Homo sapiens: one gene and its partner. The protein of the gene in region 1 interacts with the protein of each later gene in a biochemical or structural test. Each region holds a gene or a part of one and is shown on either strand. Other genes may lie near its edges.

Evidence for each region. Proteins that work in one complex are often made in the same cells at the same time.
Region 2: the proteins of ARHGAP21 (region 1) and MYO18A interact in a test that uses a peptide from one of them, tested with the Homo sapiens proteins (one large-scale study listed by IntAct).

The regions. Positions count from the first base shown.
Region 1 is NC_000010.11:24,584,509-24,588,642, forward strand, and holds part of ARHGAP21 (rho GTPase-activating protein 21), read right to left. Parts: intron 1,599-4,134; coding exon 1-1,598. UniProt on the Homo sapiens protein: Functions as a GTPase-activating protein (GAP) for RHOA and CDC42. Downstream partner of ARF1 which may control Golgi apparatus structure and function. Also required for CTNNA1 recruitment to adherens junctions.
Region 2 is NC_000017.11:29,170,399-29,173,898, reverse strand, and holds part of MYO18A (unconventional myosin-XVIIIa), read left to right. Parts: intron 1-3,500.

The DNA.
Region 1 (4,134 bases):
TGGAAGCTTTCTCCGTTTATTTGGTCAGGTGACTGTGGTGGTATGGAAAGAAGGGGCCTGTTTGTTGAAGCCAAGGTGCTGGAAGAACTGCCTGTGTTGCAATGAAGAGACAAAGGTGTGTCGGTCGTGGCTATTTCTCGTGTGCTTGGGTTCTCTGTCTGGGGATCTCCGATTTCTCCTCTGCTAAGGTCAGAGGTACTGGTGCGTAGGCGTTCCCTGGCCAGCCAGTCTGAGATGGAAAGGTCCTGGGCTGAGCATTTTGGTTTTAACCGGTTTACAGCTGAAAGTTCAGATTCTCTCTCCCCGCTCTGCTCATGCACTTTCCAAAAATTCAAAACGCTGATTTCGGTAGCATCTCTGTGCCCTCCTAGTGTATGTCTGCGCCGGATGCTTTTCCTTTTAGCAGTCTCGGCATTCACTTTGTGATTCCCTACTCCAAACATGTCATCCGCAGGGGCTCTGGGTCTCAGTTTTAACCGATCTGCTATTTTCGTTTTCCATGTGGGTTCCTGTTTTTCGGATTCGCCTCTGGTGGGTGTCAGTAAACTCCCAGTTGACTTTCCTTTTTTCATAACATCAAACACTTTAGTTAACGAAGGTGCTTCTTTCTCATTCTTGGCATCTCCTAGACTTCCACTATCTGACTTGAATCTAGCTGATTTTTTCCTGGAAAGAGTATCACATTCGATGAGTTTATGGGAACTGAAGAGCTGTCTCCGGCTATCTAAACTTGATGTTAAACTTCCCTCGGTGCAACTTAATTCACTTCCTTCAGAATTTCTCCGGCTGCTCTTAGTCACTTCTTGCAGTTTTCCTCGGAAAAGCCTCTCTGAAGTCAAGGCTGTGGGGAACACGGGAAACTCGCTCTCGCTGTCGGTTTCCACAGGCCGCCCTTCACTGATGAGTTCGCTTCTCTCGTCATCTGCCTCGTCCCCCTTGCTCTCTGCCACGGATTGCACCTCAGGGCTCAGTCGACTGGAGTCCAGGCTAGTCAAGTATGTAGCAGACGATGTGGTGGAATAATCTGAGGTGATGGTGCTGACGTTGGCCAAAAACTCGCTATGTTTCGTTTCTGGACTGGTTGATTTCTTCATGGAAAACCTTGCCAGGGAGGCCTGGGAAGACGTGCTGAGCAAAGTGCCAGAGTCAGAGCCTGTCTCTTCAAGGTGGGAGGACTTCTGTGCCAGAAGTGACCTGGGGCTCTCTTTCAGGATGGCAAAGCGACAGCTGAGAGTTGGTGACTTGTTGTGTTTTGAGTTGTGTGGTGGTGAGGGTTCTTCAGAAGGCGTGCTCTCTTTTCCTAGTGATATCTTTTCATCTTTTGTCGTGCTGGGGTCTTTCCTAGTGCTGTTTTCTTTGGCAATGATGATCTTCTGTTTTCTGCCCAGTGTCTCACTTTCTTTTTTGGACTCCTCTTTAGTATCATTGTGACACTGTTCCACATTTTCTTTCTTAAAAAATACATTGTCCAGTTCATCTTCTGAGCTGCTAGGCTGTGCTTTTTCTTTCGGCTTCTTCCTCTTGCGACTAGCAGCTGCAAAGATGGAGGACACAAGCAGTTCCCTGCTATACTGATCCTTTCCAGATCCCCAAGAACCCTGGGAAGCAAGAGAGAAGAAAGACTCTGAGCATAAGAATGCAGCTGAGTTCATTTTCTGACAAGCTTGTCTCCCAAATATTTCTTATCAAATTATATCTACTAAAGCTCTGGAAGCATTAACAGTGCAATTAGCTTTTTTTTTAATACCTCTTTTTACCTTGAACCAAAGTCAAATTTTTATTTAATGAGTCCAATTTCTTGCCTCGTGGTATTTAACTGCCAAGCCACAGCTCATACACATCTGCCTTTCAGGAAAATAGTCTGTGCTTAGTGCTGATTCCTATCAAAATCCCCCAAACACCTGACCTTCCCTCCTTCCACAGTGCCCAGGCATTCTTCACTTCCTTCATTTGGAATAGAGGCATGGGATAGGTAAAACAATATTGTGACACGGTCAAACATCATATTCTGATATAGGTTATTAAACATCACATTCTGATATAGGTTATTAAATGTTTATGACTGACTTTGATTTTTCTAATTACAGGTACCACATGATATAGATACTGTATCAGATAAGCTCATTGAGATAAGGGAACTCTGGTCTTCCATTAGTTCATTCAGGCAGGATCTTCAAGGATCTGCCTTAAGTAAATCAGGTTGGTAATGTCTTCATTTATCTCAAGGTAACAATGGAATTAGAATATTCAAAAAACAGGCCAGGTGTGGTGGCTCATGCCTGTAATCCCAGCACTTTGGGAGGCTGAGGCGGGCAGATTGCTCGAGCCCAGAAGTTCGAGATCAGCCTAGGGAACATGGTGAAGGCCTGTCTCTACAAAAAATTAAGTGGGCATGGTGGCACGCACCTGTGGTCCTGGCTACTTGGGAGGCCGAGGTCAGAGGATCACCTGAGCCTGGGGAAGTCAAGGCTGCAGTGAGCATGAGGGTACCATTGCACTCCAGCCTGGGTGACAGAGTGAGAACCCACCCCAGGAAGGTAGAAAGGAAAGATCAATTAACATAAGTACAATTAAATCCTTACCACAGAAACACTGTAGTGCAGTGTTATTGGGAAAGTTATTTGCTATGTATAATAGGTTCTTTTAAAAAAAATTTTTTAAGATGGAGTTTCACCATGTTGCCCAGGCTGGTCTAGAAGCCTTAGTCTCAAGCTATCCTCCCACCTCAGCCTCCCAAAGTGCCAGGATTTACAGGCATGAGCCACTGCATCTAGATATAATAGGTTCTTGATTGCAACTATTAGTTTCTTCCTAAATATCTGCTGGTTTACCACACACTTTTTAAGACAAGCAGGTAGGCAGGAGGTATGCTGAGTAATAGAAACAGACAGTATATTTCTCTATTGCCTGCAAATCTTAGACAAGTTAAAACTGCTCTATTTAAAGTCTTAAAGTAAAAATTTAGGCTGTTCTATCAAAGAATTTAGGCTGTTCTATCAAAAATTCGCTAAGATGAAATCACAGATGAACAGAACTTTGTTTTTACAAGTTATAAAGACTTTCATAATTATCCAGCACATTTCTAATGGTTATTTACATTTCCCCACATTGTGCTGAAGACTGTAGGGGATAATGGTTGTGACTGGGCTCTCAATTGGGAGACCTTGATGTCCATCCTCTCTAGCTTGCTGGGTACGAGCAAGGGATTCACTTTTAAACATCTCAGTTCCGTGGCGAGAAGCAATTAGATTATACTGTCTTTCAGATTTCCTTAAGGTTCTCTTTACAATTCTATGATCATATATGTGTTGAGGCAAATTACTCTACTTTTCTACAGAGACTGTTTGTTAGAAGTAGTTAATCATGTCATTGGGATATCCACTATATTACAGGCATAGCATAACACCACTATGGATAAGATGAAAAGGCTACTGTAATAACAGGTTAAGAAAAATGCATCTAGAGAAGGGAAAAGCAGGGATTTCAAACAGGTCTCTCTGGTTTAAAATCTCATCTGCTGGCAACAGAGTTAAGGAAACTGTTCTAGATTAAAGAAGTCTAAAGAGATTTGACAAAGAAATGCAAGGAATGATCCTTGACTGCATTCTGTATAAGGAAGTAAAGAATATTACTGGGACAATCTGTATAAAAACTGCACATTAGATAATAATGTGTTGTACTTACCTCAGTTTCCTGAGTATGAAAATTACACTGTAATTATATAGGAGAATGCCCCAGTTCTCTGGTGATACATGCTGAAGTATTTAGGAGTAGTGTTATCTCTACAAGTAACTATCAAATGATTCAGAACAAAAGTGTGAATTTACAATTGATGAATCTAGGGTAAAGGATTTGGGTGCTATTATTTTAGCAGCTTTAGGGTAAAGGATTTGGGTGCTATTATTTTAGCAGCTTTTCTGTAGGTTTAACATTTTTCAAGATAAAAAGCTGGGCAAAAAGATAAACATCACAAGTAATAGAGACATGATAAAGCATTTTTGTAAGAATTATAATTTAATCATATGGAGTCCTGTTATGATATTTAAACATGATATGTAAAATTCATGTCTCATTACAAAATATAACAATGTTTTAAGAAGTCTGACAATTCCAGTTGCTACTGCCTCAACAGTG
Region 2 (3,500 bases), on another chromosome or scaffold:
TCAGGAGGCTAAGACAGGAGGATCACTTGAGCCCAGGAGTTCAAGTCTGTAGTGATCTATGATTGAGCCACCAAACTCCAGCCTGGGTGACAAAGCAAGACCTTGTCTCTTAAAAAAATTTTTTTTTTTCACAGATACCACTGACTTGACCTCTGAAAATACATTAGTTGGTGCAAAAGTAATTGAGGTTTTTGCCATTAAAAAGTAACGGCAGGCCGGGTGCGGTGGCTCACGCCTGTAATCCCAGCACTTTGGGAGCCGAGGCGGGCGGATCACGAGGTCAGGAGATCGAGACCATCCTGGGTAACATGGTGAAACCCCGTCTCTACTAAAAATACAAAAAATTAGCCAGGCGCGGTGGCGGGCGCCTGTAGTACCAGCTACTCGGGAGGCTGAGGCAGGAGAATGGCGTGAACCCGGGAGGCGGAGCTTGCAGTGAGCAGAGATCGTGCCACTGCACTCTGGCCTGGTGAAAGAGCAAGACTGCGTCTCAAAAAAAAAAAAAAGGGCCGGGCGCAGTGGCTCAAGCCTGTAATCCCAGCACTTTGGAAGGCCGAGGCAGGCAGATCACCTGAGGTCAGGAGTTCAAGACCAGCCTGACCAACATGGAGAAACCCCGTCTCTACTAAAAATACAAAATTAGCCGGTCATGGTGGCGCATGCCTGTAATTCCAGCTACTCAGGAGGCTGAGGCAGGAGAATTGCTTGAACCCGGGAGGCGGATTGCAGTGAGCTGAAATCGGGCCATTGCACTCCAGCCTGGGCAACAAGAGCGAAACTCCGTCTCAAAAAAAAAAAAAGTAACGGCAAAAACCATAATTACTTTTGCACCAACCTACCAATTTGTGTTTCCACCAAGACTTATGAGACTCCCTGCATCCCATGCCCTAATTGATTGATATTATCAACCTTGATAGTTTTTACTAAACTGCTAATTGAAAATAGTATACCTCAATTTCACATGTCTGTGAATGTTATGGAGGCTGAATACCTGTTCATGTTTGATGGCCATTTGTATTTCTGCCCCTACAAATTGCCTGTCCATAGTATCCTTGGCACTAGCTACGTGGGCCCTCTGGACTCAAGCCAGTGTGATCCAGCTTGGCCTTGTGCTTATCAAGTTACCTTCACTTCTTTGGGCTTTACTTTCCATGTACAAAGGTTTTGACTTATTTTAGTCATACTTGTGTACTCTGTTATCCTCTCTACTGTGTCATTTAGACTGCAAAAACTGTGCCCTGCTACTATTAGGTACCTCTCTGAGGGTAATTAAATATATTTCATTTAATTCCCCCACCTTAGGTGGTAGGTACCATTATTATCTCCATTTTTATAGATGGGGAAATGGAGGCATGGAGGCCTTAAGTGATTTGCCTGAGATTTCATAGCTATTTACTCATATTTTTTTTCATTTTTATTTAATTTTTTTTTTTTTAGACAGAGTCTTGTTCTGTCGCCCAGGCTGGAGTGCAGTGGCATGATCTCGGCTCACTGCAACCTCTGCCTCCCAGGTTTCAGCGATTCTCCTGCCTCAGCCTCCTGAGTAGCTGGGATTACAGGCGCATGCCACCATGCCCAGCTATTTTTAGTAGAGACAAGGTTTCACCGTGTTGACCAGGCTGGTTTCGAACACCTGATCTCAGGTGATCTGCCCTCCTCGGCCTTCCAAAGTGCTAGGATTACAGGCGTGAGCCATTGCGCCCGGCCCTGTTTACTCAGATTTGTTCACAGGTTTGTTACTTGATATCCAAAGCCTGAGCTCTGACACTGGGCTTACTTATCTTTATGTTGCTTGCCTTTAGGAAGTGGCTGATAGATACATATTTTTTCCCAAAATTTTATCACAATGACCTGCAAACATTCAGAAAAGTTAAAGAATTTTGCAACGAATACCCTCCATTTCCTAGATTCTACAATTAACATTTTCCTATCCTTGCTTTTACACATCTGTATCCCTTGATCCATCCATCAGGCTATGGTTTTTTTTTTTTTTCTTTCTTTCTTTTGAGACAGGGTCTTACTCTGTTACCCAGGCTGGAATGCAATGGCATGATCGTGGCTCAATGTAGCCTCGACCTCCCAGGCTCAGGTGATCTTCCCACTTTAGCCTCCCAAGTAGCTCCCACAGGCATGCACCACCACATCCAGATAATTTTTTGTATTTTGAGTAGAGACAGGGCTTTGCCATGTTGCCCAGGCTTGTCTCCGACTCCTGAGCTCAAGCGATCTGCCCGTCTCGGCCTCCCAAAGTGTTGGGATTATAGATGTGAGCCACCTTGCCCAACCTCATCAAGCTGTCTTAAAATTTTACACATCTCAAAGTAAAACGTAGACATCAGTATATTTCGCCCCAAATACTTTAACATACATATCATTCACTAGAGTTCAATATTTGTTTATAGTTCTTTTCTTTTGAGTGGATATTTACAAACAATGAATGCACAAATCTTTTTTTTTTTGAGATGGGGTCTTGCTCTGTCTCCCAGGCTAGAGTGCAGTGGCGCAATCATCTTGGCTCACTGCAACCTCCGCCTCCCAGGTTCAAGCGATTCTCCTGCCTCAGCCTCCCTAGTAGCTGGGACTACAGGTGTGTGCTGCCACGCCCGGCTAATTTTTTTTATTTTTATTAGAGACGGGGTTTCAGGATGGTCTCGATCTCTTGGCCTCATGATCCACCTGCCTTGGCCTCCCAAAGTGCTGGTATTACAGGCGTGAGCCAACGCGCCTGGCTGAACGCACAAATCTTATGTGCACCATTTGATAACTTGACAAGTGCATATACTTATCAACCCAAACCGCTATCAATATACAGGACATGAATATCACCCCAAAAAGTTCCCTCATGCGATCCCACTCCTACCCCCACCATAGGTTAGTTTTGCCTGCACTAGAACTTCATATAAAGAGAATCATACCCATATGTGCTCTTTGTCAAAGACTTCTTTCCCTCTCACTTGACATCATGATTTTGAAGTCCATCCCCATTGTGTGTATCTTTAGTTGTTTCTTTTTTCTTGCTGAGTAGTATTCCATTGCATGAATATGAGCATTGTTTATGCACTCTGATGGACAGATAGATGTATATTTGAGGTTGATGGTCATTGCCTTCGGGATGCTTACTCTCTTAAAGTGATAGAGCAGCTGAGTTGACAGATTGTACTTTCTTTTTGTTTTTGGGGATAGTAAGAGCAAGATTATTCGGGTCCATACCCTAACTTACATAGATGCCTTCCTTTTCTTAAAATTAGGAAAAACTTCTTAGAGTATGATGAGGAGAGAAACGCAGAAAAGGAGGTCAGGAAAATTATAAGGTTACCTTTACTGGAGTGGAGGGAGAGGGTAGGAGAGGAATGGGAGGCAGATGGAAACTGCAGCCCGGGATAGGGGGTAGGAAGGTAGTGGTATCAGAGCTGTTGGAGACTTTGGACCTGAGGCCAGGAGGTGCCGGAAAGTGCAAGGTCTACAAGAAGGCCATGGAGCAGCAGTCGCATTGCAGATCT